Linked DNA regions of Homo sapiens: region 2 is linked to region 1. Evidence: fine-mapped expression QTL. A gene starts in region 1. The other region holds a variant in brackets. All regions are shown on one strand. Distances are from middle to middle.

Region 1 (15,310 bases):
CATTATTCATAATAGCCATAAAGTAAAAAGACCCCAAATGTCTATCAGCGAATGGATGGATAAACAAATCATGGTACTGATTGTGTGCAATAGAATACTGGCCATGAAAAGGAATGAAGTACTGATGCATGCTGCAACACAATGAACTTCCAAGATATTTTGCTAAATGAAAAAAGCCATATACAAAAGGTCACATGTATGATTCAATTTACGTGATACATCCAGAATAGATGAATCCATAGAGACAGAACACAGATCGGTGTTAGTCAGGGGCTGAGAGGAGTGGGGAAGGGGAAAAACCTGCTAAATAGGTCAGGAATTTTACTTTGGAGTGATGGAAATATTTTGGAACTAGATAGAGGTGGTAGTTGCACAACATTGTAAGTGTACTAAATGCTACTGAGTTGTTCACGTTTAAATGGTTAATTTTATGTGACGTGAATTTCTCAACAAATTTTTTTAAAGAAATGACCTAAATTACACAAAGAGCTAACAATAAAAGAAAGACCTTCTTGATGATAAGAGCTGAAAACAGGGTAAGGCTGGCAGGAGTAAAATCAATGAAGGGCCCCCAAATTCTCCCCACAGTAGTATAGATCAGTTCTTAAGAGATAGCTTTGTGGAGTCAAGGGCTCTTCCCCAGAGCCTAAGGTAGTAGCAGGAAAAGGCCTGAGGTAGGAGTCAGGAGCTGTGACTATGTCACTAAATAATCAGCGCCTCTCCCCTGAGCCTCAAGCTCCCTCAGTTGCAAACCCAGAAAACTACCTCCCGAGGCTGTTGTGAGGCTCAAAGCAAACAGTGAATATGAAGGTTTTCATTACCCATTATAAAAATGCAAAGTTTTCCATGTGCTTCAGGGTTGAAATTCCAGCTTGTTGTATGTCCCTGAACAAGCTACTTAACCCCTCTAAGTCTTGTTTTTGTCTCTACCTACCTTACATGATTGTTGGAGAATTAGAAATAATATACGCAAAGTGCCTGGTACCCACTAAACCCTCAGTAAGTTGAAGCTATTGTTAAATGGGTGGGAACAATTTCAGCAAGGAAGGGAAGGAATAAGAGAAAATGAGCAAAATGGGTGTTGGGATGAAGGTGGGAGTCAGTGGAAATGTCATGGCCAGTGCAGGATTATGGCAGCCTAAGGGGAATATATAATCTAGAAATGGCATATGTGCTGCCCCCTTTCTCTCCTGCATTCATATCAGATACTACCAATCAATCATGTATTCTTTACTGCTGCACCAAGATATGGCCTCACAACACTCATCACTTTGTTCTAAGCAGCCACGGTCAATTGAAGGGTATTGGCATGAAGATGAAACCCATTTGTCACTTCTGTACTAACAGTTTCTTGGAGGATGAGGGATGATGTGTCCCTAAGAGTACACATAATTTCACAATTTGTGCCATGTACCCAGTTAAAATAAATTGGTGGAAGGAACAGGGGTGACTTATCTATGCAGTGTGCAGCACAATCGATTATGAGTTCTACCACGTACTTGCTCTGTGACCTGGGACAAGTCACTTCAGCCTTCTGAACCTGTTTTCCCATCTATGAAACAGGAGCAATGGTACCCAGCTCACGGAGTTGCCAAAGAGCTCAAATGAGCTCATGTGTGTGAGATAAGAGATGAGGCAACACCTACATGTGAAGAATTTTTGAGGAAGAATGCCCCACCTTGTTGTTGGAGACAGGAAGGATACAGACCATGCTGAGAGTTTAGTGAGATTTTTCAGCTCTGCTATACCCCAGTGCGGAAAATGAATTCCAAAGTCAAGACCCCAAAATCCTATTTCCCTAGTCTTTCCCAGTGAGGTCCAAGGCAGCCAAGTCATACAATGAGGAGGACTTCTCCAATCAGGTACCTTGAGGCTGGAGCTGTAGGCTCTGCCAGGCCAGGGGTCTTCTCTGACCAGGAAAGGGGCAGATGTCTAGGGTTTTCCAGATCAGTACCTAGGACAGGGAATCTAGGTGAAATACACAGCCTTGACCGCTGAAGGACTCAGCAAAGGGCAGGCAAACACCCTTTTGGTTTTTTTCCTTTTCTTTTCATTTTTTCGTTTTCGTTTTTGAGACAGGGTCTCTGTTGCCCAGGCTGGAGTGCAGTGGTGCAATCAGGGCTCACTGTAGCCTTGACCTCCTGGGCTCAAGAGATCTTCCCACCTCAGCCCCCTGTGTAACTGGGACTACAGGCATGTGTCCCATTGCCCGGCTAATTTTTTTTAATTTTTATAGAGACAGGAGCTCGCTATGTTGCCCAGGCTGGTCTCAAATTCCTGGGCTCCACTGATCCTCTCACCTTGGCCTCCCAAACTGCTGAGATGACAGGGTGAACCACCATGCCTGGCCACCTTTCTTTTCAAAGCTACTCCCTAGCCTAATGCCCTTCAGTGATTCCTCTTACTCATGGATAAAGTAAAAAAGACCTTGAAGGCCAGCCTCACCTTTTCCAACCTCACCTTCTGAATTTCCCTACCCTTAACCCATTGCTCCAGCCATTCTCTCCATTCCCAAATGAACCAGGCTCTCTCACACACACTTCCCGGCTTTTGCAAGTGCTGTTGCCTTTTCCACACAACGTACTCCACACCACCATTCACCAAATCCATTTAACCAAACTGTCTTTCACACATCCTTTCAAACTAATGCCTTCCGACGGATCCCTGCTTAGGGTAATATAAGCCTCTCTTATGCATTCCCTTGGCAGCCTATACTACCCTTCATCATAATATTTATTACAATAGACTGTTGACAATCTGAGAGCAGGACTGTGTTTTATGTTTATATCTTCATGGCTTAGCACAGTGCCTGGCACCATAAATAGTGTTCAATAGTCATTCAAAGAAAAAATGAGTAATCGATGAGAGACACCAGGTTATGATGTAACATTGCAAAGTATATAATGTTTTGACAGCTCTTTCTTCTTCTTTTCTACCATTCTTTTAATCATTCTTTTCTTTGATTTATTTTAATGGGCAAACTCGGAATCGGGTGTCATTGCCAGCCTCCCTGTATAATTAGGAAAAAAAAAATTTCCCCAGATTTTCAGGGAATACGGGCTGATAGTCACTTTCCAGCCATGCAAAATGTGAAATTAACATAAAGCTACACAAAGCTTTTGTGACAATGGGCCCTCTGACTCAGCTTCAGAGATGAGAGCAAAGAAGCAAAGAATTGTCCTTGGTTCTTTTCACATCCTCCCCCTAGTGGCAAGAGCTCCAAGTAAGCTAAGGAAGAAAATGAAACCCATTTGGTCCAGAGCTCTCTCTTTCTCAATGCCTCATTCACAGGCTTTAAAACACATCGAGATTCCTTCACATCACCTATTCCAAGAGAAAATGACTGACACATGTGAGTGGTCCAGGCTGCATTCTCTCTCCGTGAAGTCACCAGAGCTATAGTCGTAGTCCTGGGTGATCTCTGGTCATCTGATACAATTGTGCCCAAGCTGGGACCCCAGACCTCTAAACATCAGAGGAAAGAGTACTGGAGCAATGGGGTCCTCAAGAGGATTTGGACATATTAAAATGCCTCAAAAAATTGTATCATTGCTGGAGATGAAATTGGAAACCACTGAAGAAATTGGCAAGTATCTTCGCCTTCCCCTGTAAATTTATCAGCTTACTGTTAAATCAGCACTGCTTATCTCCCACTCACCAACAGTAACTTATCTTGAATTAATGGAAAATAGGAAAATAAGTAGTGGCTTCATACATGTTGTTGGTAAAGAGTGTAAGCTGTGTTTTAAATGGGAGCTTATAAAGGTAAAAAAAAAAAAGTGGTTATTTGCAATGAAAAAAACCAGGACCCACTTCCCTGCTACCCTGTTGGCCTTTGAGATTTAGATAAACTAGGCTGCTTTCAGCAGGGGAGCATTTCTCATGTCCAGGCCATCTCATCAGACATTGGAAGAGGAAAGGATTCATTTGCCTACACTAGCAAATGGCAAATAGTTATTTTCTAGAAAGAAATTCAAACTGATTTTTATCTATTTTAGCTCAAAAAATTTCAAAATCTCCTGCAAGTCCACTGTATGAAATTCAATTTCCTTAGTCTTTTTTATTCTACCTTTTTCATTTTGTTCACCCCAATTCCACCCAGTCTTCATATAATTCCTATGCCCCAGTCTACGAAGTTTCCTCACCAAACTATGACCATATTTTGAACATTCACTCATTCATTCAACACACACTTACCAAAAGCTTGTTATGGCCCAGGCATGATAAGCACTGGAGACACCATGACACATATGGTCTCTACCATAATGGAGAAAACAAATATTAAGTGCAGAGACATGGGAAGGCTGGGTTGCTGTATGAGTCCATAACAAAAGTACCAAATCTGCATGTTGTTTGAGTGGGAATGACTTCTTAAAGAGTTACTCTAAAAAGTCACCATTTAAACTGGAATCTGAAAGATATAAAGGAATTGGCCAGATAAAGAGGAGAAAGAGCTCCAAGTTGAGTAGTGATGCTTTACCATATGCAAAGTCCCTGAGTAGGAAGGAGCAAAGCGATGAGTAAATTGTACTTGCTCACTCCAATCCTCTCTCCTGGACCCCTTGCCTTACAACCTCTACTAACTAAAACCCCTAAGGTTCAAATCCTATCTCTTCTTGATAACCATTATCAAAAAGCATTTAACCTTCAACTGAATTATAGGATTTATTATTTTCTTAACATTTACATGACACTAACCTATTAAAGCTCTGTGTTGAAGGCTATTAAAATGCTTGTTCTATTCTCTCAGTTATTAATATATTACAAATTACTGGAGAGCAGAAATCTTTGCAATCCTTGCGTATCCTAGCAGAAATCCCTGCACGTAGTAAGAACTTGAATAGTTGTTGGATTGAACTGGTTTTCTTTACATTCCTCACATCTAACCTTAAACCTAGCTGGCACTCAGATATTTCTGTAAGTAAAACTGGAAAAATGAAAAATGTTTAAAAGTCCAGAGAAGAATAATATTGTGAAGGGTCCGAGATCTTACCCTATTAGCAGGCTATCAAGTTATCCTGTCATGGTTGCATGGATGCTGGTAGAAGATATGAGACTCCTTGCTAGAAACAAAGAACCCAATTACTGATGGTGCAGCGAGCAGCACGAGTATCGGCATATTTGTGTCAGCTCCCCTTGGCCCCAAGTTCATGGGGATGATGCAGCTGGGGCTACGTAGATGCCTGAGCACGTACAGTACATTGCATTACAGAGAGGAACCCTGACCTATGAGAACACAAATCTTTTATAATAGGCAGTAAGCATGAGGCCTTTTGCTCCAGAGAGAGATGCTATATTTCCTAAGGTTGTTCGTTATACAAAACTGCCACAACAAAAGGCAGAGAAGACCTCCATTTGTAAAACATACAGAAACATGAGACACCCATGGAAATTATTTCCTAACTCTGAGTAAGCAGGTATTATTATTGTTTATTGGGTGCTTGTATATGCCAGGTCCAGTGCTAAGTATTTTAGATGCATCATCTTTTCTATTCCTCTCAACAAACATGAGAAAACATTAACAAATTTATGGAAAAATATTTTTATAAATTAAGATGTTTAACAAAGAAACAATAGCAACCAAGGAGAATCTGAAAATACACAGGAGCATTAGGAGGTCTCAGAGAGGAGCTGTATCTATTAGCTGAATACTATCTGGACTCACTTCATCTGCTATTCCTGCTTTTCCTTCCTATGCTTCTCTGGCCTGCATGGTAGATTATGGATGACCCAAGCTCCTGCACTCACTTGATATAGTTCCAGCCAGCCTCAGAGAATGATTAAGAATCCCTGGATCTAATTGCCACTTCCATCAAAGAGAACATAATCAACACTGTATATGTGTGTTACAGAGAGAGCTTTATGTTAATATAAATAATAGTAACATGAATTAATATATAAAGAGATCCACTTTTTTCATAATAATTCCTTAAGTTAAGTAAAATATTGTGATAACACTTACTGGTCTGTATCTTCCACTAGCCTGTTAGCTCCTCCCAAGCAGGGATCCTATCATTTAACAGAATTATAATCATGTATATAATTATAATTATAATCCTGTATATAAGAATTATACAGAATTATAATTATGTATATACATGTATTAAGGATTTTCCTGTCACTAAGATTATTTTTAAAAATACTAAATTCTTGCATAATATTCCAAATTGGGACACTTCTGCAAGTTATTTAATCACTTTTGAATACTTAGACTATTTTCAATTTTTCACTACTATAAATAACATTGCAATAGTCATCCTTTTCAAAAATCTTAGCTACAGATGTGATTATTTACTATGGATAGCTTCTTAGAAGTGAAACTCTAGGCCAGGTGCGGTGGCTCACAGTTGCCTGTAATCCCAGCACTCTGAGAGACCGAGATGGGTGGATCACCTGAGGTCAGGAGTTCAAGACCAGCCTGACCAGCATGGCGAAACCCCACCTCTACTAAAAATACAAAAATTAGCTGGGTGTGGCAGCGCATGCCTGTAATCCCAGCTACTTGGGAGGCTGAGGCAGGAGAATTGCTTGAACCCGGGAGGCTGAGGTTGCAGTGAGCCAAGATCACACCGTTGCACTCCAGCCTGGGTGATAGAGCAAGACTCTGTCTCAAAAAAAAAAAAAAAAAAGAAGAAGTGAAACTCTGGCTATTTACTTTTTGGAGTTTCATAAATATATTACTAAATTGCTAAAGGCCAAAACTGGAAACACATTCCCCTTGAGAACTGGAACAAGAAAAGGATGCCCATTCTCACCACCCTTATTCAACATAGTACTGGAAGTCCCAGCCAGGGCAATCAGGCAAGAGAAATAAATAAAGATATTCAAATAGGAAGAGAGGAAGGTAAACTATCTCTCTTTGCCAACGATATGATTCTACACCTAGAAAACCCTAAAGACTCTCCCAAAGGCCCCTGGAACTGATAAACAAATTCAGTAAAGTTTCAGGATACACAATCAATGCACAAAAAATCAGTAGCATTTTTATACACCAATAATGTTCTAGCTGAGAATCAAATCAAGAACACAATCCCATTTACAATAGGCACAAAGAAAATGGAATACTCAGGATCATCTCACCAGGGAGGTGAAAGATCTCTGCAAGGAGAACTACAAAACACTACTGAAAGAAAGCAGAGACAACACAAATAAATGGAGAAATATTCCATGCTCATGGGTTGGAAGAATCAATACAGTTAAAATGGCCATACTATCCAAAACAAATTACAGATTTAACGCTATCCTTATCAAAATACCAACATCATTTTTCACAGAACTAGAAAAACCTCTTCTAAAATTAATTTGGAACCAAAAAAGAGCCTGAATAGTCAAAGCAATCTTAAGCAAAAAGAACAAAGCAAGACTTCAAACAATACTATAAGGCTAAACTAATCAAAACAGCATGGTAGTGTTACAAAAACAGACACATAGACCAGTAGAACAGAATAGAGAACCCAGAAATAAAGCCACACACCTAAAACCATCTGGTCTTCAACAAAATCAACAAAAATAAGCAACACGGATAGCATTCCCTATTCAGTAAATGGTGGTGGGATAACTGGCTAGCCATATGCAGAAGAATGAAACTGGACCCCCCTACCTCTCACCATATACAAAAATTACCACAAGCTGGATTAAAGATTTAAAAGTAAGCCCTCAAACTATAAAAACTCTAGAAAAAAAACTAGGAAATACCCTTCTTGACACAGGCTTTGGAAAAGAATTTATAGCTAAGTCCCCAACAGCAATTACAACAAAAATAAAAACTGACAAGTGGGACCTAATTAAAGAGCTTCTGCACAGCAAAAGAAATTACCAACAGAGTAAACAGATAGCCTAAGAATGGGAAGGAGAAAATATTTGCAAACTATGCATCTGACAAAGGTCTAACATCCAGAATCTATAAGGAATTTAAACAAACCAAGAAGTATAAAACAATCCAATTAAAAAATGAGCAAAGGACATGAACACACACTTCTCAAAAGAAGACATACAAATAGCCAACAAACATGAAAAAATCCTCAACACCACTGATCATTAGAGAAATGCAAATCAAAACTACAATGAGATGCCATCTCACACCCATCAGAATGGCAATTATTAAGAAAAAAAATTCACATATTGGTTAGGCTGTGAAGAAAAGGGAATGCTTATACTCTGTTGATGGGAATGCAAACTAGTTCAGCCACTATGGAAAGCAGTTTGGAGATTTCTCAAAGAACTTAAAATACAACTACCATTCAACCCAGCAATCCCACTACTGGGTATATACCCAAAGGAAAATAATTCATGCCATCAAAAAGACACAGAGCTGGGCACCGCAGCTCATGCCTGTAATCCCAGCACTTGGGAGGCCTAGGCGGGTGGATAGTTTGAGCCCAGGAGTTCTGGACCAGCCTGGGCAACATGGCAAGACCCCATCTCTACAAAACATGCAAAAATTAGCCAGTTGTGGTAGTGCACACCTGTAGTCACAGCTACTTGGAAGCCTGAGGCAGGAGGATCAGTTAAGCCCAGGAAGTTGAGGCTGCAGTGAGCCATGCACGACTGCACTCCAGCCTGAGTGACGCAGCAAAACCCTGCCTCAAGCCAAAAAAAAAAAAAAAAAAAAAAAGACACATGCAACCGTATGTTCATTGTAGTGCCATTCACGATAGCAAGGACATGAAATCAACCTAAGTGCCCATCAACAGTGGACTGGATAAAGAAAATGTGGTACATATACACCATGGAATATAATGCAGCCATAAAAATAAGGAAATTATACTCTTTGTAGCAACATGGATGGAACTGGAGCCATTATCCTATGCAACCTAATGCCAAGAACAGAAAACCAAATACACATGTTCTCACTTATAAGTAGGAGCTAAACATTGAATATATGATGGTAAACGTGGAAACAACAGGCATTGAGGATCATTAGATGAGGAAAGGGGGAGACGGACAGAGGGGCATGGGTTGAAAAAGCACCTGTTGAGTACTATGCTTACATCCTGTTGGGATCATTGGGACCCCTAACCTCGATATACCCTAAGGTTTTGCGTTTTGTATTTTGAAACTGGTAAGATCAAACTTTTTTCCCAATTTTTTTTTTTTTTTTTTAGATCGAGTCTCACTCTGTCGCCCAGGCTGGAGTGCAATGGTGTGATCTCGACTCACTGCAACCTCCGCCTCCAGGATTCAAGCGATTCTCCTACCTCAGCCTCCTGAGTAGCTGGGATTACAGGCATGTGCCACCACGCCCGGCTAATTTTGTATTTTTAATATAGACAGGGTTTCTCCACGTTGGTCAGGTTGGTCTCGAACTCCCGACCTCAGGTGATCTGCCCGCCTCGGCCTCCCAAAGTGCTGGAATTACAGGCATGAGCCACCACGCCCAGCCATCCCAGTGTTTTAAATAGCAATTTATATTTCCTCTTCATGAATTGTCTGTTAAAGCAGTTGTTGGCGGGAATCAAGTTTTGTTCTTTCAATGTGCTTCGGGCCTTAGAAATGGTGTTTGTTACTTAGTTGACTCTCACAAAGCTTTGAATACATATAGATAGAAACCTAGCCGTAATTGTTTAGAATCTTGAGAGAGTAAGCCACTAACACCGCACAACTGTGTGCCATTTTACAACTTACAGAGAATATTCATGAGTATTAGTGCATTTTAATACAACTACTGTGCATTGTTGCTTTCAGCATTTTACTATGCGGAGCAGTCTTGAGTAACTGAGGTCTGAGAAGGATAAATGGTGAAAATTCAAGGAATTTCTCCTAGAAACGGAGGAATTCGGCTTCCCTAAAGAAAGGACATACCGACTGAAATAGTTGGTCCTCCCGTGCACCAGAGGGTGAAGCAGCAGGATGTGACGCCTCACGAAAAGTGAGCGGCTTGCTGGACTACACTTCCCAGAAGGTTTCGTTGGCCCTCGCACTACGCAATCACCCAGAACGCTCAGCGGCCGAAAACTTCAGGTTCCAGGCTGCTGTGCGGCTAAATGCGACTCCATCTCCCCCGACCCAAGCGCGTAATGGCCGCTGGCTATCTTGGGGGAGCCAGCTGTTGGACTATGCCCCACTGCCAGGAAACAGGCGCCGGAAGGTTCTCTGACAAGATCTCGCTTTCCTAGGGCGGTGAAGGCGTTCAAAGGTCGGGAAGGGGCGCTGGGAGAAGCGGGGCAGCGCTGAGCCATGCTCGCGAACTGTGGGTCTGTCTGTGAAGAGACCCAGTTTCGTGGGACCACGGTGGCGCCTGCGCTGGGAGGTGAGCTTGTGACAGAGCGAAAACTACAATTCCCAGCATTCCTGTGGTGCCAGAACTACCTTGCCCGAAAGCCTGTGCGAGATTTACCCCGTCTTCCGCCTCCCTCCCACCGGAAAACTCTGAGGACATGAATAGTCGCCAGGCTTGGCGGCTCTTTCTCTCCCAAGGCAGAGGAGATCGTTGGGTTTCAAGGCCCCGCGGGCATTTCTCGCCGGCCCTGCGGAGAGGTGAGGCAAGGCGTCGTGTCATAGATGCCTGAGTGCTCTCTAGGGAGACGATGCCCGTGGGGTCGCGCCTGCTCGAGCGAACGGGAAGAGAAGGTGCCACGCCCTCCTCCCGGATTCACGCCTTGTGCTGGGCGACGCCGCTGCCTGCTGCCCCGACTTGCCCAGCTCGCCCCAAGGGGCGAGGACTGAGGAAAGCACTGCCTTTCTGTTCTTAAAGCGAACCTTTGAAGGCCTGGGCTTCGCGCCCGGCTTCTTTCTCAGCCGTTGTTTCCGTTTTTTGGTGACAAGAGGCTAGTAATCTCGTCAGGAGCCAACGTAAGGTAATCTGTGTTTGAGGGTGTCCTGTTTTCTTTTGTGGCCTGATCAAATTTTGATTTTGTTTTTTTAGGTGCTGGCCTCGAGCCCAGGTTTTTGGTAGACAGCATCATAAATTTCAGGCCACGTCTGCCTTATTCTCACTGGAATTCTCAGTACATTTCAGTCACATTGTAGACTTTGGGAAAATAAGTGAATACTGGAACCCACAAGTTTCCAACCTGTTGGCACCCCTGTTAACAGGGTGTCCTGAAGACATCTAACTTTATTCAGAGAAATGTTTCTAGGGCTAGGTTTTTGTTGTCGTCGTTGTTTTTCACCCCCAGTTTTTTAACTTCCCTCCCAGTTTTTAAACCGTTTTAAGGTTGTCCACAAAATAGGCGAATAGGCACCTCTTATCTCTGTTCACCTTCTTGAATCTTCAGTGCCAGGTACGCTGAGCCATTCGGTACCCAAACACTTCTACGCTGTTATTTATACTCCATATTGTTACTTGTGCTATTTTGCTCATTGTTTCATTTTAATCCACACCAGTAACAGCTGCAGTCAAAACTGCAGTTGTTGATCCTCCATCTGTGAGATTGCTGTTTAGCTGCCAGGGTCATTCACAAGGTCTCTTTTGTTAGGTATTTGAGTGTTTAGCATACATACACATTATGATGGATTTTACAAAAAGGAGGTAGCACTTTTGAACTCCAGGAAGTCATCCAGCTGCCATCTTTGTTGACTTTTACATATCCAAATGAAAACAAAATTAAATGTTCTTAGAGAATGAACTTTGAAGTGTATATCATACTGGGAAATAAATGACCATAAGTACATGTTAATGTTTTAACATAAAAGTTATCCCACTTGAATCTGAGTGTTCTTGGAGAAACCTTAAATCTCTTCTTACAACTAGTAGGATTTGTGTCCTTCCTCACTAAACAAATATTGAATGTTTATTTTATACAAGTAGTTTAAACTTGCCTAATAATGTCAATAATCAAGGGATTTGAAAACCTTGACCTCTGACCAATGGAAGGACCTTAGTTATTCTAGTGCAACTAGTGTAGCACGTTAGTAGACCAGCATGTAAGAATATATGCTGTTAATGCCTGTTCTTTTGAATTCCTGACAGAAAAGTAACTGGCTATACACTGAAGTGTTTCAGCTGTAAAATTAGCAGTAAATTAATATAAAACTTGCAGCTTAAATTTAATGGGACAACACTTTACATGTTTGCTTGGTTGTTTTTTCAAAAGTAAAATTTGACCTTTTCCAGCAAAGAGGAGCTTGGTGCAAGATAGGCCAGAGTTCCAATCCACAATCTATGACTTAGTAGTTTTGTGAAACTGGTTAAACCTTTAAACTCTTGAGTTTGTATCTCGCTATTACGAACAAACAAATCCACAAGATAGGTATCAAAGAAACAAAAGTAGTAACAATGAAAGGAAAGGTTTGGGGTTTTGTACAGATGTTTAAGTCTGTACAAAACTCTTCAAATTATTAAGGATCTGTTATTCCACTTTGAGCTGGAAACACTGATTCTGGGCACTTCATCTCCCCTACCTATTAATATGGCTGCAAAGACTTACTTATTTTTATTTTTTATTTTTTTGAGACAGGGTCTCTGTCACTCAGGCTGGTGTGCCTTGGCGCCATCTCGGCTCCCTGCAGCCTGTGCCTCCCAGGCTCAGGTGATCCTCCCACTTCAGCCTCCCAAGTAGCTGGGACTACAGGCACACACCACCATGCCCAGCTAGTTTTTGTAATTTGTGTAGGGACAGAATCTTCCCACGTTGCCCAGGCTGATCTCAAACTCCTAGGCTCAAGCAATCCGCCTGCCTTGGCTTCCCAAAGTGCTAGGATTACAGGCATAAGCCACTGCACCCGGCCTGTAAAGACATTCTTAATGAGTGCTTATGCACTGAACTGCCCATGACACAGTTGGAATAGTGATTATGACACCCTACTATGAATATCCAATGGTTTTTCCAGTTCCTTATGGCTTCCAAAGTGGAGTGAAACCCAAAGTTCTACTGCCAGTGGGTGTCAATACCTACCTCATAGGATTGGGAGGACTAAGCAAAATATTATGTGAATATTTGAGCACATATAAGGAATAATGTTTTACATATCCTTCTGTATTCTCAGCTCTCCTTAACCCCATAATAAATAGAAGCCAAGAGAATAGCAAAGGCAGCCCATGCCTAGATTTTGCTGATTTCATTCATCCTGTCTGGATAACTTCTCTCAGATTTAATATAGTTCTACCATCATCCAAATAGCCATTCTTGATCCTTTATTCTCAAGGAGGGCCAAATGCTTCTCCTTTGTATTATTCATCATTGTGTATACATAATGCCAAGCACAGTGCCTTTCATTCAGCAAGTATCTATGGAGCATCCAGAATTGTGTAGGCATTGGGGATTCAGTAGTGAGCAAGAACAGATGTGGTCCCTGCTCTCAAGGACTGTATAGTTTAGTGCAGGGGTTGACAAACTTTCTGTAAAGAGCCTAATAAATATTTCAGGCTTTGTAGGCTGTAAGGTCAGTCACAACTATTTGCTTTGCCACTGTAGCATGAAAGTAGCCATAGATTAATCCATAAATGAATGAGCTGTGTTCTAATAAAACTATCTAGTTCTAATGAATAAAACTAGAAAAACAGGCGGTGGTAGTCTATGGGCTATAGTTGGCTGACTGCTGGTCTCTTGGGGAGACAACTGAGAGTCACATAAATGTGTAAATTATGAGAGGGTTTGCAAAAGAATCCTGTGCAGTACTATGAAAAACCATCATGAGAGAGACATAACCTAAAGGAGTCATCAGGCTTTCCAGAGGAAGAAACATTCAGACTGAGCTCTGAAGGATAAACATGAGCAGGCAAAGAAAAGGAGAGCTTTCTGAACAGGGCAGGGGCTAGGCAAAGGCCCTGAGAAGGGAAAGCACATGGCATGTTTGTGGAATTAAAATCAAAGAGCCCTTGAAAGCAGAGGACCAGAGAGAGCATAGTAGGACATGAGACGAGCTGCACCCTACAAAGATTTATTGGCTTGTTAAGGTATTTGGTCTCTATCCCAAATTTAGCAGGAAGCTGCTGGTATTCAGAGTGTTTGTTGACTAAGTCAGAGGAACTGTACTAATCTGCCTAGCTATGAGACCATAAGATCTCAGACTAATTACAGACAGTCCTCAACTTAAGATAGTTTAACTTAAAAATTTTTGACTTTACCATGGTGCAAAAACAGTGTGCATTCAGTAGAAACTGTACTTTGAATTTTGATCCTTTCCTAAGCTAACGATAATGCAGTATTCTTGCAATACTGGGCAGGGGCAGCAAGCCGCAGCTCCCAGTTAGCCATTGATCACAAGGGCAAACAACCAATACTTAGTATTGCCAGGGTTTTTGGGTTTTGTTTTTGCATCCCATCGTGTTTACAAAATGCCCATCTGGGTGTCTACATGAAATATTCAACACTTTATTATAAAGTAGGCTTTGTGTTAGATGATTTTGGCCAACTATAGGCTAACGTAAGTGTTCTCGACAAGCTTGAGGTAAGCCAGGCTAAGCTGTGATGTTCAGCAGGTTAGGTGTATTAAATGCATTTTCAGCTTAGGATATTTTCAATTTATGATGGATTTATTGGGACATAACCCTTTTATAAGCTGAGGAGCATCCATACTTAGCCCTGAGCCTCAATTTACCTCATCCATAAAATGAGAATTTTAAGGATGGGGTAATAGATGTGAAAACAGTAAAATATTATTTAAATATTATTACTGATTTTTTTTTTCTAAATCCAAATAAACTTCTAATCAGGAATATGTAACTAAGAGTACCATCATTACTCCTAATGCAGTTGTTATTGAAACTACTGAAATCTGCCCCTTTTTCCTCTAATTTTTCTTTTTCTCTCCTACCTTAGGTCTGATATTTACACACAAAGGCATAGTTCTTTACCCTTCTAGATGACATTCAAGTGAAAAAGATTACTGACCAGTGTACTAATATGTGTGTTTTTAAAAATTGCTCCACCTTTATTTACAGCTACTTGCTTTTATCTCTTCAGTTAAATAGAATTTTTTGGAGTATTTTAATGAATCTTTTATCATTTGAATTTAGAGTTTATTGTTAGATTTTTTAAAAAAAACAATATCTGTTTCCTGCCTTCTAGTCCATAAAATCAGTGAGAATATCATTTATGTCTGGTTTTGCTTATGATTTTATCCCCTATGCCTGGCACAAGTTCTAGCACTCAATCAATATTCATTAGGCTAGAAGGATATAAAGAAGGAATCACATTTGTCCTACACAGTACTAGTGGAAAAATAATGCCTGAAGTTGCAGCCTTTTAAATATCTAGATATTTTAAGTGACTTAAGATACATAAGAGAGACAGCATGGAGTGTAAGATTTGGAGTCAGAAGTACCTGAGTCTGAATCCTAATTCTGCCATTGGCTCTGTAAAGGTAACTCCTTCACCTTCCCAAAAGTTGTTTATGGGCAGGGCACCTTGTAATAAATTCATCAGCA
Region 2 (15,310 bases), 150 kb before region 1:
TACCTTGTGACCCCCACTCCTGCCCATCAGAGAACCCCCCTTTGACTGTAATTTTACTTTACCTACCCAAATCTTATAAAATGGCCCCACCTCTATCTCCCTTCACTGACTCTCTTTTCGGACTCAGCCTGCCTGCACCCAGTGAAATAAACAGCCTTGTTGCTCACACAAAGCCTGTTTGGTGGTCTTTTCACACAGATGCAAGTGAAAATGATAAACAGGCTTAGAGAGTTAAACTTATTTATCACATGAGAGATACAAAAAAATGATTCCCATTTATCAGTGATTTTTTTCCCCATCATGCCATGTTTTTAAAAAAACTCATTATTTTAGAATAGCTTTAGATTTACATTAAGAAAGCAAAAGTAGTACAGAGACTTTCCATACACACCAAAACTCAGTTTCCTCTATTGTTAATATCTTGTCGCAATTAATAAACCAATGTTGGTATATCATTATTCACTGAAGACTATGATTTATTCTGATTTTTTTTGGCATTTACACTTTTCCAAGGTTCTAACCAGGGAACTGTGTGATATTTTGTTATGTCTTTTTAGGCTCCTTTTCATTTTGACACTTTCTCAGTTATTGATGACCTTGACAGTTTTAAGAAATACCAGTCAGGTATTTCACAGAATGCCTCTCAACTGGAATTTACCTGATGTTCTTCTCATGATTAGACTGATATTACAGGTTTTGGGTAGATAAGTGCCATTCTTACCACATCAAGGGTCCACGACTATTACTGTGGATCTAACCTTGATCACCTGGCCCAGGTACTGTTTTTCAAGTTTTTCTACTGTAAAGTTACTCTTTTTTCCTCCATTTCATACTGTACTCTTTGGAAAGAAGTCACTGTGTGAAGCCCACATTTAATGAGTAGGGAGTCATGCTTTTCATCCTTGATTGCTGATATTTTTAGGCTTTGTGTCCCCACCTAAATCTCATCTTGAATTGTAATGCAAATAATCCGCACGTGTCAAGGGAGGGACCAGGTGGAGGTAACTGAATCACGGAGGTGGTTGCCCCCTGCTGTTCTTGTGCTAGCTAGTGAGTGAGTTCTCACAATATCTGATGGTTTTATAGGGGGGGTCTTCCCTCTTCACTTGGCACTTCTTCCTGCCACCTTGTGAAAAAGGTGTCTTGCTTCCCCTTCCCCTTCCCCTTCCGCCATGATTGTAAATTTCCTGAGGCCTCCCCAGCCATGCTAAACTGGGAGTCAATTAAACCTCTTTCTTTTATAAATTACTCAGTCTTGGGCAGTTCTTTACAGCAGTATTTAAGTGGACTAATACAAGTGCAAAGTAGCTACATGAATTATTTGAAACTTTTCTGTATGGAAGAGTTGTCCATTTGCCTCTATTTATTCAATAATTTGTTTCTATCAAGAGGGATTCTTGGATATTTATCTGATAGTTTTATAGTTTATTTAGTTTAGTTTTGCAGTTTAGTTTATCTGATAGTATTATAATCCAGAACTACTTTATTTTGCTATACAAATTGTTTCAGCTTTGTCCATTGAGAGCTTTTTCAGTTAACTCTGATGCTCCTTTGACATACTCCCACTATTGTGGATTTTTTGAGCATTTTCTTACTTTCTATACTACAAGAGGCTCAGGCTTATTTTGTATATTTCTTGCCCAGTCCTACCAATCCTAGAGTCAGCCATTTCTCCAAGGCTTTTTTATTGGAGAATGTTATTAAAAATTAAAATCTGGGTACTAGGTGTGTTCTTTGCTAATGGGACATTATTTCCTCTAGATCCTCTCAGTTGACAGAGCAAGGTAATGAATATGTGTATAGTAACTGGTGAATATAGAAACATTTATATATGCAACCATCTGTATCTATATTAAGCTAAACATGAGTTTCTACTGATATCTCTAGTCTAACTCATCACCACATGGACCAATCAAGCCTCTTCCTCTGACTTGTGTGTAAACTCTTACTCCAACAATGAGAAACCTGAGGCCAATCATTTTTCATCTCTTTATTTCTTTCTGACTCAGCAGATCCAGTACAGGACCCTCTGCTTAAGAAAATCTTGAAGAGACCAGGCACAGTGGCTCACACCTGTAATCCCAGCACTTTGGGAAGCTGAGGCAAGTAGATCACGAGGTCATGAGTTCAAGACCAGCCTGGCCAACACGGTGAAACCCTGTCTCTACTAAAAATACAAAAATTAACTGGGCATGGTGGAACATATCTCTAATCCCAGCTACTTGGGAGGCTGAGACAGGAGAATCGCTTGAACCCGGGAGGCACAGGTTGCAGTGAGCTGAGATTGTGCCACTGTACTGCAGCCTGGCGACAGAGCGAGACTGTCTCAAAACAAAAAGAAAAAAGAGTCTTCAAGAGGCTTCAAGTCTCTCACATTCTGACATTTAATGGTCTCTTGATTATCTCAGGCTCACGCTACTTTTTTCCACACTTGATGGTAAACATCTTCATTGTAATTCTTTAAGGGTTTCACACATCTGAGGCATGGAAAAATAACTAGTGAATAATTGATATAAAGGGCAACAAAGCCAACTTAAGAGGGAGATAATGTTTGTAGTAAAAAATCCGAAGGTAAAAATTTGTTTATGTAGCATCATTTTGAATTGTTATTAAGTCAGCCCTCAGTTTTCCTCATAAAGTACCCTACTCGTGTGTAGATCCACTCAGTCAAATGCAGTGGTTTATCCAGTGACCTACGATTGTCAACCCCCCCTTGCCTCTGCTTCCTGCAGTCTCCACAGGTGACACTTGGGTTCCAGGTGGTTTGCAACACTCCACGGCATCAGGAGGTGTGGGGTTAGCTTCCGCTCATCAAACCTGACCTGAGCCTCCTGCCTTCCTGCCACTGCCAATGCACTGGTCCCATCTGTTTTTCTCTGTGCTCTGAATCAACTCCCTTTTGGATAATACTTGGAAAGGCCTTAGCAAATAGACAAGATTAAGTTATCTGCAGGCAAATTATGAATTGTGTATCATGCTGCTTGTGTCAGGATTATTTAGTGAAAGGTAGAAAATACTTGAAAATACTAATATAGACTTACATGTACATTACACGTACTTCTCCAGTCAGCCATGTTATCTACCTTTGCTGGCAGCAGGTGGGGAAAGGGATGGGCAAAGGGAAAGTTGGATTGTTGAAGAAGAAATGTAAAGAAAAATAATAGCTGCTGAAAGCAAGACAATAGGTCTGAAAGTCTAAAATTTTTATGTGCATTTAACATATCAGCTTGATATAGAATTTTCCCTATAATGTAGATTAGAGAGCCATAAAACTAGAGGTAGAAGGCCAGGTGCGGTGGCTCATGCCTGTAATCCCAGCACTTTGGGAGGCCGAGGCAGGTGGATCACCCGAGGTCAGGAGTTCAAGACCAGCCTGGCCAACATGGTGAAACCCAGTCTCTACTAAAAATACAAAAATTAGCCAGGCATGGTGGCACACACCTGTAATCCCAGCTACTCGGGAGGCTGAGGCAAGAGAATTCCTACAGGCAGGGAAAAAGGAAGATACCATGAAATAGAAGAAGTAAAAGAGAAGCCCATCCCTTATAATCCAAGGCTACAGAAGGCAGAGGGTGGACAGAAGAAAGGAAAAAAAGGTCGGGAGGTAGACAAACTGTTCCAGTTTCTCTCCTTGGGCTGAAACCCTATAAGTGAGGAGAACAATTAGGGCATGGTCAGGAGCCCTCTGACCTATCTGGAACCCTGAGAGGAAGTGAGCCAAGATTGTGCCATAGCACTTCAGACTGGGCGACAGAGCAAGACTGTCTCAAAAAAAAAAAAAGAGGAAGTCTCATCTTGTGGGCCAGATACCCTAGCATGTCCATAAGAACTTGGGGATTGGCCACATCAGAGTAAAACTCAGTGGCACAGCATGGTCAGAATGGGACAGCCAGAGCTCAGCTCTCCTGAGCTGCTCTTTCTGTAAGATATGTTGGAACCTGGGAGTCCCCAATGGGCCCTAAAAATGGGAACCAGAAGGTGGCTGAATCTGAGAGCCAGCATTCCAACCATGGGACCTCCTGTGGTAAGGGGTGACTTAGCAGAGAAGGCTGAGCCCTACTCCAACGCCCCATCCCACCCCCAACCTGAAACCAATGGGGAACATGAGAGGCTCTGCGGAGAGTGAGATTGGTAGCCAGGAAGCACTGCAGCCTCTGCCACACCTAGAGAAACTGGGCTGCAAGCAATACCAGTTTTGATTTCAGATACAAATGCCAGTAGGGCAAGCATCCCTCAAGTCAACAAGGGATGTTGTCATAGAAACAAAAGACACTGTCATAGCAACCAGAATGATCTCAGGACACCACGTGAATCCAAAGGACTCTTTCCTTCCCACTGCCAAGAGGACACTGTAAGCCACAACCTGGCCCCGATCACCCAGAGGCTGTCTTAGCAAGGAGCAGAACTGCAGTCAGAAACCTGAGGGACAGAATGTTCACCTGAGGAGAATAATCTTTGCTTAAAGGGAATGTCTGAAATTATTGCAAGGGACTAACTGTATTATATAAAATAATATATATAATTTTCACTCCAACCTCCATCTCCCAGGTTCAAGTGATTCTCCTGCCTCAGCTCCCCAATAGTAGCTGGAATTACAGGCACCCACCATCATGCCTGGTAATTTTTGTATTTTTAGTAGAGACAGGGTTTCACCATGTTGGCCAGGCTGGTCTTGAACTCCTGACTTTAGGTGATTCACCCACCTCAGCCTCCCAAAGTACTGGGATTACAGGCGTGAGCCACCACACCTGGCCAAAATTATATTTTATATGGCATCTCTGATCCATAAACTCCAGCTAATTTAGTCAAGAATATATATTTTATGGGAGACTTCTGGGCAGCTCACAGAGTTAAGGAGAATCTGCAGTGGGAACCTGGAGTGGGAGTAGGCAGAGAATGCTCCTTGAAGGTAAATCTGTGCAAAGAGAAAGAAAGAAGGGTATAGGACAAGGGGAAAGTATGAAGAAATGCATATAGTGGGGAAAATACAGGCACCTTTAGGGACGTGCAAACAGCCAGGTATGCCTGGTACATAGAATGCTTAGGAAATGCTGAAGACTGGAAGCTGAAAAGACCAAGGAGAGAATGTCTAAATACAAGGCAAGGATGTTACTTCATCCTGTAAGCAATGAGGAGCTCCTCAGTGTTTTAAAAATCATATGTGCGTTTTAGAACGCTCACTGTGGCAGCAGTGTGAGGAATGACTTTGAGGAGGAAGAGACAGAAGTTTCCAGTCTGTGGGGAAAAGGACAAAGGATGAAAAGGGCAATGGAATGTGAGAGTTGCCACAGGTATTTTCCTCAGGAAAGGAGCACTGGAAGTGTCCTACACCCTCTGCAGCAGCCTGTCAAAGGCCAAGTCATCAACATATGCCCAGGATCTCTCTACTCTGGCCTTTTCAAGGGCTGCAGTCCTGCCATCATGCCCCTGGCTCACACCAACATGCAAACATACTCTGGTATCTCATCTCTAAAAATATTTTTCATGCCCTAGTTTACTTCCCAATCTTTCTATTCTGTTTCCTTAACTGGCGCTTCTCTCCTGGAGGTCTTCTCATGGTTGCTTCATATTGTTCCTGGACCAAACCGAGGGTCAGGCTGTTTATTCTTATGGCCCAATAATGAGATGCAGATGAACTGGGAAAAGAGGGGAGTTTTTTTCTGTAACCAGGTACAGAAAGAAGGCCTGGAAAATATTGCCAGACCAACTCAAAATTACAAAGTTTTCCAGAGCTTATGTACCTTCTAAGCTATACGTCTACATTTAAGTGTGTATGCCTCTAAAGACGCAAGTGATTAACTTCTAATCTATAACTCTCAGGCCTCTTAAGCCCAAGCTAAGCCATCATATCCCCTGTGACCTGCACCTATACATCCAGATGGCCAGAAGTAACTGAAGAATCACAAAAGGAGTGAATTTTAAATGGCCTGTTCCTGCCTTAACTGATGACATTCCACCACAAAAGAAGTGAAAATGGCCAGTCCTTGCCTTAACTAATGACATTACCTTCTGAAATTCCTTCTCCTGGCTCATCCTGGCTCAAAAAGCTCCCCCACTGAGCACCCTGGACCCCCACTCCTGCCCGCCAGAGAACCCCCCTCCTTTGACTGTAATTTTCCTTTACATACCTAAATCTTATAAAACGGCCCGACCCCTATTCTCCCTTCACTGAATCTCTTTTCAGACTCAGCCTGCCTGCACCCAGGTGAAATAAACAGCCTTGTTGCTCACAC[A/G]AAGCCTGTTTGGTGGTCTCTTCACATGGACGCGAGTGAAATTTTCGTGCCCTGACTTGGATGGGAGGGGGGAATCTCCCTCGGGAGATCAATCCCCTGTCCTGCTCTTTGCTCTGTGAGAAAGATCCACCTGTGTTCTCAAGAACTTAAAACCTCAACTGTCACCTGACCTAAAACCTAAACACCTTATTTTCTTCTGCAATGCTGCTTGACCCCAATACAAACTTGACAGTGGTTCCAAATAGCCAGAAAATGGCACTTTTGATTTTTCCATCCTCCAAGATCTAAATAATTCTTGTCATAAAATAGGCAAATGATCTGAGGTGCCTGATGGCCAGGCGTTCTTTCACAAATCGGTCCCTCTCTAGTTTCTGTTCCCAATGCAACTTGTCCCAAATCTTTCTTCTTTCCCTCCTGCCTGTCCCCTCAGTCCCAACCCCAAGCGTCGCTGAGTCTTTCTAATCTTCCTTTTCTACAGACCCATCTGACCTCTCCCCTCCTCGCCAGCCCGAGCTAGGTCCCAATTCTTCCTCAGCCTCTGCTCCTCCACCCTATAATCCTTTTATCACCTTCCCTCCTCACACTCGGTCCGGCTTACAGTTCTGTTCCACCACCTGCCCAGCAATTTCCTCTTAAAAAGGTGGCTGGAGCTAAAGGCATAGTCAAGGTTAATGCTCCTTTTTCTTTATCCGACCTCTCCCAAATAAATTAGCATTTAGGCTCTTTCTCATGAAATACGAAAAACCCAGCCCAGTTCATGGCCCAGTTAGCAGCAACCCTGAGACACTTTACAGCCCTAGACCCTGAAAGGTCAGAAGGCCGTCTTACTCTCAATATGCATTTTATTTTATTACCCAATCTGCTCCCGACATTAAATAAAGCTCCAAAAATTAAATTCCGGCCCTCAAACCCCACAACAGGACTTAATTAACCTTGCCTTCAAGGTGTACAATAATAGAGTAGAGGCAGCCAAGTAGCAATGTATTTCTGAGTTGCAATTCCTTGCCTCCACTGTGAGACAAACCCCAGCCACATCTCCAGCACACAAGAACTTCCAAACGCCTGAACCGCAGCTGCCAGGCATTCCACCAACCCCACCTCCCCCAGGAGCTTGCTACAAGTGCCGGAAATCTGGCCACTGGGCCAAGGAATGCCCCCAGCCTGGGATTCCTAAGCCATGTCCCATCTGTGCAGGACCCCACTGAAAATCAGGCTGTTCAACTCACCTGGCAGCCGCTTCCAGAGCCCCTGGAACTCTGGCCCAAGGCTCTCTGACTGACTCCTTCAGCTTAGCAGCTGAAGACTGACGCTGCTCGATCACCTCAGAAGCCCCCTAGACCATCAGGGATGCCGATCTTCAGGTAACTCTCACAGTGGAGGATAAGTCCGTCCCCTTCTTAATCAATACGGAGGCTACCCACTCCACATTACCTTCTTTTCAAGGGCCTGTTTCCCTTGCCTCCGTAACTGTTGTGGGCATTGAAGGCCAGGCTTCTAAACCTCTTAAAACTCCCCAACTCTGGTGTCAACTTAGACAATACGCTTTTAAGCACTCCTTTTCAGTTATCCCGACCTCCCCATTAGGCTGAGACACTTTAAATTATCTGCTTCCCTGACTATTCCTGGGCTACAGCCACACCTCCTTGCTGCCTTTTCCCCCAGTTCAAAGCCTTCTTCACATCCTCCCCTTGAATCTCCCCACCTTAACCCACAAGTATAGGATACCTCTACTCCCTCCTTAGTGACTGATCACGCACCCCTTACCATCCCATTAAAACCTCATCACCCTTACCTCGCACAATGCCAATATGCCATCCCACAGCACGCTTTAAAAGGATTAAAGTCTGTTATCACTCACCTGCTACAGCATGGCCTTTTAAAGCCTATAAACTCCCCTTAAAATTCCCCCATTTCACCTGTCGTAAAACCAGACAAGGCTTACAGGTTAGTTCAGGATCTGCATCTTATCAACCAAATTGTTTTGCCTATCCACCCCGTGGTGCCAAATCCATATACTCTCCTATCCTCAACACCTCCCTCCACAATCCATTATTCTGTTCTGGATCTCAAACATGCTTTCTTTACTATTCCTTTGCACCCTTCATCCCAGCCTCTCTTCGCTTTCCCTTGGGCTGACCCTGACACCCATCAGGCTCAGCAAATTACCGGGGCTGTACTGCCACAAAGCTTCACAGACAGCTCCCATTACTTCAGTCAAGCCCAAATTTCTTCCTCATCTGTTACCTATCTCAGCATAATTCTCATAAAAACACACATGCTCTCCCTGCTGATCATGTCCCACTGATCTCTCAAACCCCAACACCTTCTACAAAACAACTCCTTTCCTTCTTAGGCATGGTTAGATACTTTCGACTTTAGATACCTGGTTTTGCCATCCTAACAAAACCATTATATAAACTCACAAAAGGAAACCTAGCTGACCCCATAGATCCTAAATCCTTTCCCCACTCCTCTTTCTGTTCCTTGAAGACAGCTTTAGAGACTGCCCCCACCCTAGCTCTCCCTGACTCATCCCAACCCTTTTCATTACCCACAGCTGAAGTGCAGGGCTGTGCAGTCAGGATTCTTATACAAGGACCAAGACCACACCCTGTAGCTTTTTTATCCAACTTGACCTGACTCTTTTGCCTAGCCCTCAAGCCTGCGTGCAGTGGCTGCCGCTGCCCTAATACTTGTAGAGGCCGTTAAAATCATAAACTATGCTCAACTCACTCTCTACCGTTCTCATAACTTCCAAAATCTATTTTCTTCCTCACACCTGACACATACACTTTCTGCTCCCCGGCTCCTTCAGCTGTACTCACTCTTTGTTGAGTCTCCCACAATTACCATTGTTCCTGGCCCAGACTTCAATTGGGCCTACCACATTATTCCAGATACCACACCTGACCCCCATGACAGTATCTTTCTGATCCACCTGACATTCACCCCATTTCCCCATATTTCCTTCTTTCCTGTTCCTCACCGTGAACACACTTGCTTTATTGATGGCAGTTCCAACAGGCCTAATCGCCACTCACCAGCAAAGGCAGGCTATGCCATTGTATCTTCCACATCTATCATTGAGGCTACAGCTCTGCCCCCCTCCACTACCTCTCATTGCCTTAAGTCAAGCCCTCACTCTTGCAAAAGGACTACACATCAATATTTATACTGACTCTAAACATGCCTTCCATATCCTGCACCACCATGCAACAGGTTTCCTCACTACACAAGGGTCCTCTATCATTAATGCCTCTTTAATAAAAACGCTTCTCAAAGCCACTTTACTTCCAAAGGAAGCTGGAGTCATTCACTGCAAGGGCCATCAAAAAGGCATCAGATCCCATCGCTCAGGACAATGCTTATGCTGATAAGTTAGCTAAAAAAGCAGCTAGCGTTCCAACTTCTGTCCCTCACGGTCAGTTTTTCTTCTTCACTTTGGTCACTCCCTCCCACTCCCCCATTGAAACTTCCACTTATCAATCTCTTCCCACACAAGGCAAATGGTTCTTAGACCAAGGAAAATATCTCCTTCCAGCCTGTCTCTTCCTTTATAAAATGATGGCAGTTCGCTGAGCTATTACCATGTGCCAAGCACTGTGGTAGGTACTGGATACTGGTTCCAGCCCCAAGTCACTGCCAGGCCTATTGCGGGGGGATCAGATGAAGTGATGTACGTTGAAATGTTTTGACTGGGATTCAGAAGACTGTCGAAACCGAGTTTGAATATTCGCTAAGGTTTGCTGATGAGGTGCTATTTGAATAAAATACGGAAAAGTCTTTGCAGACCATGCAGCTACTTTGGGCTGCTTTTCTAGTCTTACCGACCCATTCTATTCTGTCGTCATTTCATAACCTCTTCCATGTAGGTTACAAGCCACTAGCCCATCTCTTAGAACCTCTCATTTCCTTTCCATCATGGAAATCTGTCCTCAAGGAAATCACTTCTCAGTGTTCCATCTGCTATTCTACTCCTCCTCAGGGATTTCTCAGGCCCCCCCTCCCCTCCCTACGCATCAAGCTCGGTACTGGCAAATTGACTTTACTCACATGCCTCGAGTCAGGAAACTAAAATACCTCTTGGTCTGGGTAGACACCTTCACTGGATGGGTAGAGGCCTTTCCCACAGGGTCTAAGAAGGCCACTGCGGTCATTTCTTCCCTTTTGTCAGACATAATTCCTCAGTTTAGCCTTCCCACCTCTATACACTCCGATAGCAGACTGGCCTTTATTAGTCAAATCACCCAAGCAGTTTCTCAGGCTCTTGGTATTAAGTGAAACCTTCATACCCCTTATGGTCCTCAATCTTCAGGAAAGGTAAAACGGACTAATGGTCTTTTAAAAACACACCTCACCAAGCTCAGCCACCAACTTAAAAAGGACTGGACAATACCTTTACCACTTGCCTTCTCAGAATTCGGACCTGTCCTCAGAATGCTACAGGGTACAGCCCATTTGAGCTCCTGTATAGACGCTCCTTTTTATTAGGCCCCAGTCTCATTCCAGACACCAGACCAACTTGGACTGTGCCCCAAAAAACTTGTCATCCCTACTATCTTCTGTCTAGTCATACTCCTATTCACCATTCTCAACTTCTCATAAATGCCCTGCTTTTGTTTACACTGCCGGTTTACACTGTTTCTCCAAGCCATCACAGCTCATATCTCCTGGTGCTATCTCCAAATAGCCACTCTTAACACCCTCTTAAAGTAAATAAATCTTTGCTGGCAGGGCTATGCTGAACCTCCTTGGGCACTCTCTAATTGGATGTCCTAGGTCCTCCCAATTCTTAGTCCTTTAATACCTGTTTTTCTCCTTGTCTTATTCTGTTCTTTTTTCAATTCATATAAAACCGTATCCAGGCCATCACCAATAATTCTATACGACAAATGCTCCTTCTAACAACCCCACAATATCACCCCTTACCAAAAAATCTTCCTTCAGCTTAATCTCTCCCACTCTAAGTTTCCATGCCACCCCTAATCCCGCTCAAAGCAGCCCTGAGAAACATCGCCCATTATCTCTCCATACCACCCCCAAAAATTTTCACCACCCCAACACTTTAACACTATTTTATTTTTCTTATTAATATAAGAAGACAGGAATGTCAGGCCTCTGAGCCCAAGCTAAGCCATCATTATCCCCTGTGAGCTGCACCTATACATCCAGATGGCCTGAAGTAACTGAAGAATCACAAAAGAAGTGAATTTTAAATGGCCTGTTCCTGCCTTAACTGATGACATTCCACCACAAAAGAAGTGAAAATGGCCAGTCCTTGCCTTAACTAATGACATTACCTTCTGAAATTCCTTCTCCTGGCTCAAAAAGCTCCCCCACTGAGCACCTTGTGACCCACACTCCTGCCCGCCAGAGAACAACTCCCCTTTGACTGTAATTTTCCTTTACCTACCTAAATCTTATAAAACAGCCCCACCCCTATCTCGCTTCACTGACCCTCTTTTCAGACTCAGCCTGCCTGCACCCAGATGAAATAAACAGCCTTGTTGCTCACACCAAGCCTGTTTGGTGGTCTCTTCATATGGACACGAGTGAATAACTAAGGTCTGAGTTTTGAAGACCTTCCTCTGGAGCCTCTGTAAATTTACTTAATCTGGATGGATCCAGGTGCTGGGGGCAATCTTCTCTCCTGCTAAATCATGGAGGTTTGGGGATTTCCTTTAGATCCCCAATAAAACTTGTTTTTAGAGGTCTTGGGAGTTTCTTCAGACCCTCAATAAAACTTGTTTAATCCTAAACGGGTCTTGTTAAGAATTCCTTCATTATCTCATCATACTTCAAGGCCCAAGAAAGGCCTGGGCAAAACTCTTGGTGGGTTTTTGTTACATTCCAGCCTTTGTATAAGGGTACTGACTCTTTCAGCTTTTAATATTTAACTTAACCACTCAGTCAGTGCTGAAACAGTTGTTAGAGGTTTGCCTGTTCAGCTGTTAGTGAAACCTGGCCTGACACAATATAGGCATCATGTCTGCCATCTAGGAAATATGGAGGGAAGAAGATAACTGAGTCTGTCCCTTTAAGAGAGATTAGATACAAACTCCACCCAATGAATTCTACTTACATCTCACTGGTTTCCCCAAATAGCAAGGGAGGCAGGGAAATACAGTTTTCTAACTAAACATCCTGCTGTCCCAAAACAGAGCAATAAGGAAGAAGGGGAGAATGGGTATTTTGGAAACAACCAAGAATACCTGCTGCACTTCCTGTGATCTCACATCTCCTTCTAAGACACCTCCTCCATTCCTCTCTTCCTAATATACTTTCTCAAAAGAGGTATCAATTTGTACTACGTTTACTTCCTTACTTCCCATTCTTTCTTCCAGTACCCACACCACACCATGGTGCTAAATCCAATGGGCAGACCACTCACTGTTCCTCATGCTCACCTTCTCTGTAGCATTCAAATATTTCCTCTAACAAACACTCTCCTTCCTCTCTTAGCTTCCTCAGCACCATGCTTTTGTTTTTCCCCCACCCTGCTGGCCATCCCTCATTCTGCCACTAGCTCCTTCTTCTTTATTCAATCTTATTCAGGTCAAGACTCACTCCTGCCCTTCTCCTCTCTGATCTCACCCAGTGCCACAGCTTTAAACCGTGTCTGTATGCTAACAACCCCAAGCTCATATCTGCAGCCAAGACCTCAGATCTTGTCCCTAGTCTCAGACATTTAGTCAACTACTTGGCATCTTAAACTGGTTCTCTTGCAAACATAGCATGCCCACACTGAAGCTCTCCCTGACACCCACTGCAAACCTGCCCTTGCCCCCTCTCAGAAAATGGAATCTCTGCCTGCCCAGTTTCCAGACCAAAACCCAGAAAAATTAATTTTGACCCCTTTATCTCTCTCACTTTCTATATCCAGTCCATGATCAAGTCCTGCCAGTTCAACTATAAATATTTTGTCAATTTATATTTATTCTCACTACCACCACCCCAGCACATGCCAACATCAACTCTTTCCTGGACTATGCCATGTCTTCCTAATTGTTTCCCTCCTCTCCACTCTTGCTCACCTTCAATCCAATCTACAGAGGGAGCTGAAGTGATTTTTGAGTACTGTAAATTGGACCATGTTTTTCTGTACTCAGAATCCCACGATGCCTTCCTATTGCACTTAGTAAAGTTGAAGCTTCTTACCTACATCCTACACGTTCCTTCCATTGCCTACTTTATCAGCTTTCCCCTCACTGTATGCTGATCATTCTTGTATCAGATCCTGAAACACACTAAGTTCTTTATTAGGCTAGAAACTTAGAATTTGCTGTTCCCTCTGCCTGGAAGTTTCTCTTTGCTCCCCACATAACTAGCTACCCTGCACATAGTACCTTGCCTGCAACTCACTAGGCACTCAATAACTAAATATTTGTTAAATGAGTGATTGGAATAAAAAGATAAGCATATAATATTACATTTAATCAATCTAAAACCTTTAGAAGTTACGTACTTTTAATCCTCATTTTATAGATAAGAAAACTGAGGCTCACAGAAATTCTGTAACTTCCCCAAGGATTCCCAAGAAGTAAGCAGAGAAAAAGGACTTCAAAGCCAGGTCAGGCAGGTTGCAGAGCCTGTTCATTTCTTCCACATGAGGCTGCTTCCACACACACACACCGTCTCTGCAGAGCATCAGCCACTCTGTTGGGTCATCTTTGTGCTTTTGAGCTGACCAGACAGTTAATAAAATGCCAGTTGCTTAATATGAGACATAAATTGAAAAGTCATCCCAGATTTCATTATCTTCCCACAACAATTATAATTGCAACTCATTAAAAATCTGATTCTGAAGGCAGAAAGAAATCATTTGCTCAGCAACAAGTCCAGAGTCCCTATTAATGCAGAAGAAGGCTTTAATAAGAAAAGTATCTGTTTCCATGAAGGATGGAAAAAATACTGAAATTGGTCCAGGTCCTTTGCAACTTCCTGGAGACATTTTACATCTCTCAAAGACTGCAATTGTGTATAGTAGCCAGTTTAACCATAAATATTTCCTGGTTGGCTAGCTACATTTTTTTCCTCTTCTCTCATATCGATTGATCTGGGCAGGAAGGTCAGGAAGGGTGAAGTTAGGCTAGAAATTAAAAGTTGTAACCCTTCTTTTACTGCCTTTACTTTACATTATTCTTGGCACTTTGATGAGCATTTTAACAACTCTAATAAGATTTGCTGCTAAGAAACCTTCTTAATTGCGTTTTACCCAGATTTCCTACACTTACATGACCATGGAATTCTTTATTCATAGTGTGTGTAGATTGTCTCCAGGATTGGCCACCACCAATTTCTCTCATCCCTATATGCACAGGCTGCTCCTCCTATCAACAGTCCATCTCCCCACCCCTAAAATCTAAGCTGGCCTTGTGATTTACTTTGTTCCGTAGAACGTGGCAAGAGTGATGCTGTGTCTGTTCTGGACCTAGCCCTTAGGAGGCCTGCCAGATTCTTGTTTTGCTCTCTTAGCAACTGGCTGCTATGTAAGAACTTTAACTATGCTATTGGATAAAGAAATCTACCTAGTCACCAGCCTCTCCAGCCACCTCAGCTGAGTAAGTGGAGCCTTCTTAGATGTTCTAACCCCAACCAATTTCCCAGCAGAATACAACCAGGTAAGAGAATCCAGCCAAGACCATACAGAATACAAAACAATATAGTTGAAGCCAAGCAACCTGCAGAATCTTTAAAAATAATAAATAGTTGATACTCTAAGCCACTAGGTTTTGAGGTGGGTTGTTACACAGGCATTGATAACTAATACAATATACCACAGATCTGATGTTGTTCCCAAGAATTGTTTTTGGAAAATCCCTTTATTCTGTGAATAGAAAAACTGAAGTCCAGGGAGCCCCAGTTGGGAAGTGACTTTCCCAAGATCACCTAGTTAGTTGAGGAAGAACCTAGCTCACCTGATTACCTGTCCAGGGCTCTGTCTACAACACTTGCTGCCACTGTCAATCAACAGAACTTTCCTAGAATGACTGTTCCTGATCTGACAGTTGGTTTAACTGAACATATTCAGATATATCTATCTATCTATCAATATCTATATCGATAGATAGATAGAT

Direction of the effects. Alleles are on the strand shown, and positions count from the first base shown. SD is a standard deviation of normalised expression in the study named.
For the expression in testis of the gene that starts at base 10,229 in region 1, A is the low allele of the variant in region 2 and G is the other (small effect, 0.31 SD a copy in GTEx).

What was found. PIP is the estimated chance that this variant, and not a neighbour inherited with it, causes the effect.
Region 2: its variant is fine-mapped to the expression of CCDC90B-AS1 in testis (GTEx, PIP 0.91).

What each region holds. Positions count from the first base shown.
Region 1 is chr11:83,281,039-83,296,348 of GRCh38, reverse strand. It overlaps CCDC90B-AS1 (CCDC90B antisense RNA 1), which reads right to left and starts at 10,229. Exons shown (of 3, transcript NR_186344.1): 1 at 9,802-10,229. It overlaps CCDC90B (coiled-coil domain containing 90B), which reads left to right and starts at 9,982. Exons shown (of 9, transcript NM_021825.5): 1 at 9,982-10,476. The coding sequence starts at 10,377. RefSeq lists enhancers at 9,945-10,594, 10,017-10,612, 10,645-10,724, 10,613-11,209.
Region 2 is chr11:83,427,082-83,442,391 of GRCh38, reverse strand. No RefSeq gene overlaps it. Among named protein-coding and RNA genes, the nearest start is that of CCDC90B, 150 kb to the right of the region's middle. RefSeq lists enhancers at 678-1,371, 3,482-3,982. The variant A/G (reference allele first, on the strand shown) is at 6,234.